Linked DNA regions of Homo sapiens. The protein of the gene in region 2 interacts with the protein of the main gene of each other region in a biochemical or structural test. Each region holds a gene or a part of one and is shown on either strand. Other genes may lie near its edges. The genes, in order: SNTG1, XKR7 and ARHGEF11.

Region 1 (3,725 bases), on a different chromosome or scaffold from region 2:
GAATAACAAGCACATGTCACTGCAATACAAAACAGACTGAGTGTGTGCAATCCTTAAAAAAAAAAGACAAATAAATAGAAGAATCTTATAGATGCTGCTATAAATAAGTAGAAAACACAGTATAAATTTTATCACTAAACTACACTATTTTAAAATCTATTTCCTATATTGTATTTCTAATCAGATGTATTACTTTTATGATTTTTATTGTTGTATGTGTTAATGACTTCATGTAAAAATGTAATTGCTTTTCATGAGTAGTATGAATACAATTGATTAGTTTGTGTTTTCTTATCTGTAAAAAAACCAGAAAAGTACATTATATTGTGTTCAAAAGTGAGAAGAAGAGTTGTTTGAACAGGATAGTTGTAGAAGGAGTATTGGCAAGCATTAGGCAGGGTGGACTGGAAATCAGGGACATGTTCCTGGATGATATGACCTTTGATAAAAAGTCTCAAAAACTCTGTGTGGCTTTGAAGGATGGAGGCAAAGGGAAAGAGCATTGTGAGTAAATGACGCCAACAGGCTGGAAATTAGGAGGTCATATTTGGAGAACAGGAAGTGACCTTGTCAACAATTCATTAAATCAGAGTATTTTCTATATTAGATTTAAGTCAGAGTAATGTCTAATTAAAATTAGAAATATATTTTTAATTAGTAGTAGGAAATAGCCTGGAAAGATCAAGTCGTGGAAAAATTAAAATTTTATTCAGAGCTGTATTACTAGTCACTAAACAAAAATGGCTAATTATAGAATGTATATGAGGTCAAGATTCCCAGAACTGTATTTTTACACTACTTTGGAATGATATTAGAACTCTAGGGAAGTGGTCATGCATCTGAGGGAGCCACACATCCTGCAGTCCCACAGACTCTCACCTGTATCCGTTCTACTTCTAGAAAGGTTGCTGTCTGGAAGGCTCTTTCCCACTGGGCGAGGTCACTTTCCAGCTCCACTGAGAAGTACAGGTCCTCCCCAGACTCAGACTGCACGGTGAAGCACTGTTTCCGTCGGTCCAGCAGGTCACTGTCCTGGTGAAAACCTGGAGTTACACAGGCTGGCACACATCACTTCACATTGCTAACCTGGCCATTCCTGACTGGACCAAGGTGCAGAAGCCACAGGTAAAAAGACAACACTCTGCGAATTCACCAAGTCTTCATTAGACATTATACCAGAACTCCGGGCTTCAAAGCCCCAACACATGACTTCTCTGTCTTTACACTGAAGCATGTCCATAAAATAGAAGTTAGGGTTTCTGGCTTCATCTCTTACTAACAATATAACCACCAAAGCATTTAACATACAAGACTTGGTTTATTACTCTACAAAGGGGTGACACACTATCTCTTCCCTTCCTTACATAACTGTTATGATGTTGAAATTAAATAATGCTTGTGAACATGTTTGTAAATTTTAAGGAACTTTATAAGCAAACCAAAATATTCTTCTCCATGAGAAATGAAAAAGAAAATGAGTCTAATTTGTCTACAGCAATAATATTGCTTAAAAAAAAACGCATTATTTACCTTACTTGTGTAACTGTATTTCATTGTATCAAAAAAACGACTTTGATGCTGGCAATTTCTTGGTCTTACCAGAAGTTTTCAACTGAAGTGTTCACAAATTTACATATATTCCAATTTAAGAGACATTAACATGAGAAAAAAAAGTGAAGCAAATAATTTATGAAACAGAGTAACCCAATGCAACATGTCAGATATAGCATTTTAAATACAGTCATGTGCCGCATAAGGATGTTTGGGTTAATGATGAACTGCATATGCGACGGTGATCCTATAAGGTTATAAGGGAGCTGAAAAATTCCTATCCCCTAGCAATGTCATAGCCGTTGTAATGTCATAGAGCAATGCATTACTCTTGTGTTTGTGGTCATGCTGGTGTAAACAAACCTGCTGTGCTGACAGCTGTGTAAGTCTAGCACATACGATTATGATGTATGCTACATAATAATAATGATGATAAGAAAGAATATGTTACTGGTTTATGTATTTACTGTATTATAGTAATACAGTAAATATTACTGTATTTACTGTACTCCTATTTTTTTAGTGTACTCCTTCTATTTATTAAAAATATAGTTAACTATAAAACAGGCTCAAGCAGTTCCTTCAGAAGGTATCCAGAAGACGGCATCATTATCATAAGAGATGACAGCTCCATGCGTGTTATTGCCCCTGAAGACCTTCCAGTGGGACAAGATGTGATGATGGAACTCATCCTGACTATATGCAGGCCAAGGTTAATGTGTGTGTTTCTGTCTTATTTTTTATAAAAATTTTAAAAAGCCAAAAATAAAAAAGTAATTTGTAAATTTAAAAGTAGAAAAAAAATGTAGAGAATAAGGATATAGAATAATTTTGTACAGCTACATAATGTGTTTGTGTTTTAAGCTAAGCACTTCTACAAAAAAGGCCAAAGTTGAAAAAATTAACTTTGTAAAGTAAAAAATGTTACAGTAAGCTAAGCTTAGTTTATTATTGCAGAAAAAAATACTTCTTATAAATGTAGTGTAGTCTAAGTGCTCAGTATTTATAAAGTCTATAGTGCTGTATAGTAACATCCTAGGCCTTCACATTTACTCATCACTCATTCATTGACTCACCCAGAGCAACTACCATTCTGCAAACTCCATTCATGGTAAGTGCCCTGTATCTGTGTATCATTTTTTTTTTAAATCTTTTAGACTGTACTTTTACTTTACTTTTTCTATGTGTAGATGTGTTTAAACAACTACTTACCATTATGTTACTTTTGCCTACAGTATTCAATACAGTCATATGCTATACAGGTGTGTAACCTAGGAGAAATAGGCTGTACTGTATAACCTCGCTGTGCAGTACGTTATGCTGTCTCAGGTTGTGCAAGCAAATTCTGTGGTGTTTGTACAACAGTGGAACCATCTAACTGAGAGGCATTTCCTGAAATATATCTCAGTTATTAAATGACTGTATATATGCTATATCTATGCAGTGTACTGAAAATTGTCAAAGGGTTAATCACTGGTATCTGTAATCATTTCTCATAAGGAGGGATGTAAGTGTATCATTATTAAACACCCAAAATGTTAGATGGAATTCTCTGCTTTGGCAAATGTTTAAAAAATAATAACTATTTTCATTGTTTCCTGCTTGCATTCTTATAATTGCTGGAAGAGAGCTAATGGAAGGCATTTACTTCCAGGGTTGTAGAATTTAGCTCTGACCCTTGCTGCCAGTAGATGCTCAGAAAGCTAAAAGGATGATAAATGCTGTGCTTATTGATTTTCCTACTCTGTCTGAAGGGAGAAAAAAATGAAAACATAATATGTTTGAGAGTACAATCTAATGATAAATTATAAATACTTTTTAGTAGTTTTGGGGTTATAATATCTATGGAGGGAACAATGAGAGATAATAACTACACAAGTAAATATATTAGTACAAATTATTGTAAATGCCATTATAAAAAAAATAAGAGGCTGGGCGCAGTGGCTCATGTCAGTAATCCCAGCAATTTGGGAGGCCGAGGTGGGCAGATCACTTGAGGTTGGGGAGTTCCAGACCAGACTGTCCCACATGGTGAAACCCCATTTCTAATAAAAATACAAAAATTAGCCGGACATGGTGGTGCATCCCTGTAATTCCAGCTACGTGGGAGTCTGAGGCAGGAGAATCACTTGAACCTAGGATGAGGAGGTTGCAGTGAGCCAAGACTGTGCCAC
Region 2 (3,825 bases):
GCTACTCCCCTGGGACCCCACACCCATGGCCATTTTTGCCCTATTTGAGGGAAACTCAGTTTATGCTTAACAAAGAAGAGAAGTATTAGTTTCTTGTAAGTGGATTCTGAATGGGGGGATAGCCAGTGAGTCGAGGGGCATCTGGCCCACTTTAGGCTGAAGGAAAAGGGGGATGAAGCTTCCTACCAAGAATAGGAAGTTACCATTTCAGAATCTAAAAATATCTTTCACCATCTGTCCACTCGGGCACAGAATGATAAATGCAGATTAGTTCCTGGATGTAGACATGAATATTTTTATGTGTCACGCTAATAATAATAACACCACCTTGTGTGGATAGAGCTCCGCCCCCTTTTCCTCCAGGATAAGCTAAGTGGAATATACACATCATCTTGGCAGGAATAGATAGGGAAACAAAGGCAGAGAGATTCGACAACACAACAAGAGTGACACAGCAAGTGAGCAGCTGGGACAAACCCTAGGAGTCCTGTTTTCAACCCTCAGCCCCAAACTGAATCTTCTGAGTTAGGCAGAATGTGTTAACAAGTAGCAGAATAAATATAACAACAGCAGTAATCACCCTTTATATCTCTAGAGTGACTTTTTCCATGCTTTCCCCACACTCTTAAAATGTTACAGTCTGCAGGGCCCTCATGCAGACCTCTCACCTGACCATCCCAACAGGTAAGAATAATGCAATGATAAGACAATGAGATAAGAGGAGTAGGGATTCTCCCTCATTTCACAGAAGAGGAAACTGAGGCTTGGAAGGAGGAGGGCGGCTTGCCTAAGATCATATAGTAAGCAAGTTCATTCTGTTAGAGCACAGAAGGGCCTAAGCTACTAAATAGCAATTCAGATTCAAGAGGAGCCCTAGGTTTAGAATTCCTCCTCTCTCCACTTAACTCAGTGCAGCAGGCACCCTCAGTTCTGGCAGAGGAAGAAGACTGAAAGTGGGCAGCTTGAACAAAGCCTCAGTTTTGCCTTACCAGTTCGGGATTAAAGGGCAGCCAGTGGCCATCTAATCTCAGATTCAAGATTCCAAATCCCCTTGGCCCTGTTGGAAGGGGAGGACCCTTAGCTGGGGGAGAGGGGGTCATAGGAAGTAGAAGGAGCCTGAGGGCTCCCCAGTTGGGTCCAGCATATCTTTCTCCAAAAAGTCCAAGAAGTTTAGGCGGGATATTCATTTAGCTGTCTCAAATTCTGTGACTCTCCTTGCAGGTTGTGAATGAGCTGCAATTCTGAACTGAGGATCTTTGCGAGCAGGAAAGGACTTCTGAGATCTTTCCTGAGCCCAGGCTTGGCACTCAGGCAGAGAGGAGTGGGTTATGGCAGAATAGGGCCCTGTGGTCCTGTTTTAAGCTTCACATTTATCTTCATGAGCCCCGGGTCCTCCCCACTCACGCACACCCCTGAGGATCTCTTTCTCTCCTTTCTTGAACCATCCCCTCCCCTCTCGAAGGCCAGGTCAGACCGGATGGCACTGGGGTTGGTCAGGGCTTGGGGGCAGAGGTCAGGGAGAAGCCGACTGAGAAGAAATTAGAGCTGCAATGGGGTGGGGAGGGGGGGAGGTCAGGACAGGAGGGTAGCCCGGAAAGGTCAGATCAGGGCTGGGACGTCAGGTAGCCCTTCGCCACCCCCACTCCTCGGGCTCAGGTCCCTCCACCTGCGCTTCTCCTACCTCCAGACCTGGCCGAGCTGCAGGAGGTGGACGAGGGTCTGCAGCAGCCAGATGCAGAGGCGGCAGCAGCGGCGGCGGTAGGCGCTGGCCGAGGAGGGCGCAGGCTGGGGACCCGGCTCGGGGCTGCCTTCTTTGGTCCGGAAGGCGCCGGCGCTGTCCTTGGTGCTGATGGCGGCTCCGCCGGCTACGCTGTCCTTGGTGCTGACGGCGGGTCCCGGGGACCCTGCGGGCTCCGAGTAGTCGTAGACGAACCAGCGGAAGCTCAGTAACTGCACGACCAGCGAGGGCAGGAGCACGAACAGCAAGGTGAGGCTGAAGTAGGTGTGTTGATTCTGCAGGTAGTAGGAGGCCGCCAGCCACAGGTCCGTGGCACCGTCGGAGAAGAACACGAGCAGCGCGCACAGCACCCAGCAGCAGTCCCGCAGCTCGTAGCGCGGCCCCGGGCCGCCCGCCCCGACGACCCCCGGGGGCCCGGCCGCCGCCGCCGCCTCCCCGCGCCCGCCGGCACTGCCCCGGGCTCCACCGGCAGCCCCCTCCGGGTCCGGGCTGGCCGAGGCCGCCGCTCCATCCGACTTCGCGGCCATGTTGGCGGAGAGGGAGGCGGGGAGCGACTTCCGGGCGGCGGAGGGGGGTGCGGCGTGGGGAGGACCCTGCGCGGGCGGCTCCTCTTCCTCCTTCTCCTCTTCTTCCTCCTCCCCTCCACTTCAATTATTCATTCTCCTCGGCGCCGCCCCGCCCCGCCCCCACCCGCCTGAGCTGCGGCCGAAGGGGGGGCAGCCCCCGGGAATGCGGAAGCAGGGGAGGCGGGGCGCACCCCAGGTCACCCTCTCCCTCCTTCCTCGGAGGCGCGGGGCTCCAACCCCATGCTTTCTGTCTCTCATCTCCCCTCGGACTGCACTTCCTTCTTTTTTGTTTATCGCCTCCCCCTTCCCATTCTCTCCACTTCGTTTTTCTCCTGTGTTCACCTCCAGTGGCCTGGGTCTGACGGGGGGGTGGGTGGGGGACTTGGAAGAAAGGAGCTGGGGGACTTGGGCGGGCCCCCCAGTAACCCTTTAGCAGTCACTCCATGCTAACGCTCATTTCCAGTTTCCTGAGTGCTCACATATTGTTCCATCCCCTCCTTTGATCTTGAGGGGTCCCCTTTTCTTATTGTCTTCGTTTTGAAGCTGAGAAAGCTGCAGCTCTGAGTTGCTGTCTCTTCCTTACTCTCCGCTTTCCCTCTCTCGGGGACTGCCTTCATCTGGCTACAGCCCTAGTAGAGTAGGGGGAGGGAAGGGGACAACATCCAACATCAAGAGGAAAGGGATGGGAGGAAACACCGGGTGGAGGAAAGAGCAAGTGCAAAGGCCTGGAGGCCTGAGACTGGAGGGCATATCTTCAAGCAAGTCTGGATCTCAGATCCAGGGGAGGAGAAAGATGGGGAAGATAGGGCTGCAGAGTTCTGAGGATGAGATCCTAAGGGGCCAGAAGGTGGCCTTTATCCAGCAGGCAATGGGGAACCACTGCAGTATTTGAGCAGGGGAGTTATGTGGTCACATCAGGATTTAGAAAGAAGACCCAGCAGCCAGAGTAGAGAAGCGATCACAAGGAAGCAGCCTGGGGCTGGTGAGACCAGAAGGAGATTATAGCAGTAACCTATGAGAGGGGGTGGAGTTCCCACACATCCTGGATACCCCAAGCTCATTTCCCATCTCTGCCTTTGATCAGATTGGATGTATCCAGGCATTTATTATACAAACATCCATATAGTAGTGTCTCTTTGCCTGGCACTGTCCAAAACACTACAATTACTAACTCATTCTACCCTCACAATTTGTGAGGTAGCTCCTTTTTTCCTCCCATTTTACAGATGCAGAAACTAAGTCACAGAGAAATTAATTTGTTCAGGGTGACACAATTAGTAGCTACAGCCAAATTCATGCCCATCATCTGGCTCCAGAATAGGCTTTGCTACCCTTCAAGGGGAGGGAGAGAGGAGGGGCAAAGGGTAGGGGTTGAAGAAAGAGGAGCTGAGGAAGGGAAGTGGGAGAACCAACCTGCCTCAGAGTGGCAGGGAAGAGAGGATGAAAGGAGAGAGCTGCCCTGGGTCAGGAAGGAGAAGCCAACTGCAGTCCTGCAGCCTGGCATCCTTTTCATGCCCAGGG
Region 3 (3,500 bases), on a different chromosome or scaffold from region 2:
GGAGAAGTGGCAGAGCTGCAGTGTTTCATTTGGGGAAATTGGAGTGGCTCCCCCTCCTTGAGTAAACAGATTGTGAGCTGGTTTCAGGCTCTTCTGAAAGGAGCAGGCAGCAGCCCTCTTGCCCTGCCTGACTCCAGCTCTGGATGAACTACAGCCCTGCCCTGCCCCTCTTCCATCCATGCCACGATCCTCTGGAGGTCCCTTGACCCAACCAAGGGGTGTCAGAGAGAGCTGGAGGAAGGACGTGGAGGGTTCCTGACAGGCAGGAAGCACAGAGAACCACCGCGGAATCTGGGAGGCTCTTTCAGCCGATTTCCACAGTGACACTGGAGCGGCGGCTGAGGTGGGGAAGTGGCTGCTTGCATATCAGGTGAAGGACACTAGGTCCCCACCCCCAGGCCAGGCTTCCCTGCCCCTCCCACAATTGCACACAGGCATTTATCCCTGCCATTCTGAACAGGAGCCTGGACAGGTGGCTTCTTAAGGCTGGATGGACAGCCAGCCTTTAGAACCAGATCTCCCCGTCTTTAGAGCCAGATCTTCCTCCTCCCCATTCCAGGCAGCTGAGGGAGCTTGTGGGTGTGTGTGTGACCATGGGCAGGGGTCCGACTCTGCCCTCACAGGTTCCACACTCCAGTCTTGGCCTGTCTTTAGCTCCAAGGAGAAAGTTATTACCCGTAGCCTTTGTTCCGCCTTCCACTTCAGGTGGCCCAGGCTCTGACTGGCCACTCTCTGGTAGTGCAGGGACAACCTTGCTGCCTGCCACCTCAGCTGCACCGACACCACCACCACCAGGAAGAGGAGAGACCAAAACACAAGGAAAGGGAAGGGAGAGAGAACAGGAAGGAGAGAGGGCAGGAGGTGGGGACAGGGGGAGGAGAAAATGGGAAGAACAAGGTGAACACAAGATCATACACGATGACATCCCAGGCAGTGCAGAGAACTTTCCACCAATTCACCGAGAGACAGAGAAGGAAGGTCAGTTCCCAGAAACCCAGGAGACAGGTGGCCCTTGGGCAGATGGAATGAAAAATGCTGCTGGAAGGGAGGCAGAGTGGAATCCCAGGGGAGGGCAGGCCCACTAGCGTGGAACCCCATCCCATGTGTGCCCCAGGCTTTGTTCTACTTTTCTTGCCACCCTCTCAGACCAGCCCACTCTTCCCGGGGTGGGGACCTTCCTCCCTGGGCTCATCTATTGGCCTCCCTGTGAGCTTGTCTTGGCTTTTCTTGTCTCAAGGCCGTCCATGGTGTTTCCCAACCCGGGGTGCCCTCCCTGCCACCTTGTTCACTCCCCACATCCCTCACTCGCCAAATGTCTTCCCAGCTTTGTCCTCCACCCCTTCCAGTCCCAGCTGCCACCTCTACTGCCCTTGGAGCTGTTGCCTGGCGTGAGGGGCTGCATGCACCTGCCCTGTCTTTCCCGGCCTGAGGCTCCTGAGAAGAGTGGCTCTTTTCCCTGGGAACAGGAGATCAGTGAGGAGCACTAACAGAGACTGGTACTGGTAGTTGGTTTGTGCCAGGCAGAAAGAAATGTCCTTATGTGCTATAAAACAAAGTTCAGAGATGATTCAGAATTTTGTCTAAAGCCACACAGATATTAAGTGGCAGAGCTAAGCTCTGAATCTCGAATGTCCAACTCCAAAGCCTGCCTGATATCGGCGTTGTCTCCTTCTTCCAGGACCCAGCGTAGGTCTCTGCTCACACGGTACCCAGGGGGAGTATAGGGAAGGAAGCAGCTGTTCGGAAGACTTATCTCACCTAGCAAGGGTGCTTGTCTCCCCACTGGACACTCCCATTTATTTTACCTTTTCTCACAACTTTGTAACCTCCTGCTGCCTCTGTGCTTGAAGCATCTTCAGCCAGATTCCTGTCCAGTTCTGGAGACTCCCATATCCCAGAATTTCTGGTCCTTGGGGGTAGGTGTTCCAGAGAACAGAGACCCATGTCTTCCTGCTCTGGCCGTTCCCCCTCCAGCCCTGCAAGCTGGGTGTTGTCCCCTTCACCCCCAGGGGGTGCTTGCCCTGGGGAGCCTGGGTCCCAGGGGTGAGAGGTGACGCTGATGACAGAAGGTGTGGGTGTCAGGTCGTCCTCGGGCTCCTGGGCAGCCTGAGTTTCCATGGTGTGACCTGGCAGCAGGCTCCACAGGATCAGATGTCGCAGGTTCTCCACTGGAGGGGAAACAGGGTGATGTCTTCCCAGCATGGGACTGCACACCACGCCAGAAGGATCGTTGTACTGCCCCACTGACCCCAAGGTGGTGACCTCAGGCACAGGTGAAGCTGGAGGGCTCTGGCCAACTAGCTGGTGGGGGTTGGGTGGGGAATGACATCTGTCTCCGCATCCATCTCTCCTCAAGCACACCAGGAAGAGCCTTCGGGAAGGTGGAGGGTGCAGGCGCCTGCCAGTTCACACTGGGTGTGCGACTGGGGACCAGGGGCTGACGGCAGGGCCTTGAAGCACTCACCATCTTCCAGAGCGGAGTCAGCGAGCCCTTCCATGAACAGAGGGCCTGGGAAGGCCAAGTGGATGGGGTTCCTTGTCCTGATGCCCCTGTTCTCTCCATCCAGGGATGTGGAAGGGCAAGGCAGGACACCCAGTTCCTCTTCCTCTGCACTGCCCTCCTGCTCAGGGTCCTCTAGCAGGACCTGGTGCTTCCCTTGGACCCTCTGCTGGGACCCAGTGCCTGTTTCGGATGAGAGAAGATTGTAAGGCAGGGAAAGGGAGAGGGCACGTATGGGAGAGCCTATGGGCAGCTTTGGAGCCAAGGGGCTGGGAACACTGACTTATTCTACAGTTGTTTACTGAGAACTTCCCATGGCCAGCACTGTCCCAGGCTCTTGGCATACAACAGTAAGCAAAACAAAAAGATCCCTGCCTATGTTGAGCTTACATTCTAGGGGAGGGACATACAAAAATAAGACACTTCAGTCAATTATGTAGTTTGTTAGAAGGCAGTAACTTCCACCGGAAAGAAGAAAACAACAACAGGGCATGGGGCTAGGGGCTGGACAGTGCTGGCTACAGTATTAAACAGATTGGGCCAAGAGGACACTGGAATGAAGACGTGAAGGAGGTGTGGCGTTAGGAGGAAAAGCATTCTAAGCAGAAGGAAACAACAGGGACCCAGCCAGGAAACCCGAGATTTCTCCTGAAACCCAAGACCCCAGGTTATTTCTCACGCAAGCTCTCAATGAGAATGCTGTCCCCTCTACCAATCCCATCACAGTAACTGCATCTTAAGCCCTTTGAGCTCCCCAGCCCCGCCATGTTTTCCATTCTCATTGTTGCAGCATGTATCTCCCTCCCCAACAGTAACCCCTGGCTGGAGGATGCAGGGCCCGTGGATCCCGCCAGACTGCTCGTCTTCTTCCACAGCTGATGCCGTCACCCAGAGAGGCTGGGTGGGAATTTCTGGTCAGGTGAGCGAGTTCACCCTTTCTTAAGTCTGTTCAGTCTGCTCTCCTTCCTCTTCCAGACTCTTCCTCCCGCCCTGTTTCTTC

Evidence for each region.
Region 1: the proteins of XKR7 (region 2) and SNTG1 interact in a test that uses a peptide from one of them, tested with the Homo sapiens proteins (one large-scale study listed by IntAct).
Region 3: the proteins of XKR7 (region 2) and ARHGEF11 interact in a test that uses a peptide from one of them, tested with the Homo sapiens proteins (one large-scale study listed by IntAct).

The regions. Positions count from the first base shown.
Region 1 is NC_000008.11:50,701,907-50,705,631, reverse strand, and holds part of SNTG1 (gamma-1-syntrophin), read right to left. Parts: intron 1,059-3,725; exon of another isoform or gene 1,033-1,058; coding exon 880-1,032; intron 1-879. UniProt on the Homo sapiens protein: Adapter protein that binds to and probably organizes the subcellular localization of a variety of proteins. May link various receptors to the actin cytoskeleton and the dystrophin glycoprotein complex.
Region 2 is NC_000020.11:31,966,616-31,970,440, reverse strand, and holds the start of XKR7 (XK-related protein 7), read right to left. Parts: upstream 2,291-3,825; 5' UTR 2,266-2,290; coding exon 1,682-2,265; intron 1-1,681.
Region 3 is NC_000001.11:156,937,743-156,941,242, forward strand, and holds part of ARHGEF11 (rho guanine nucleotide exchange factor 11), read right to left. Parts: intron 3,332-3,500; exon of another isoform or gene 3,316-3,331; coding exon of another isoform or gene 3,313-3,315; intron 2,684-3,312; coding exon 2,465-2,683; intron 2,169-2,464; coding exon 1,806-2,168; intron 772-1,805; coding exon 676-771; intron 1-675. UniProt on the Homo sapiens protein: May play a role in the regulation of RhoA GTPase by guanine nucleotide-binding alpha-12 (GNA12) and alpha-13 (GNA13). Acts as guanine nucleotide exchange factor (GEF) for RhoA GTPase and may act as GTPase-activating protein (GAP) for GNA12 and GNA13.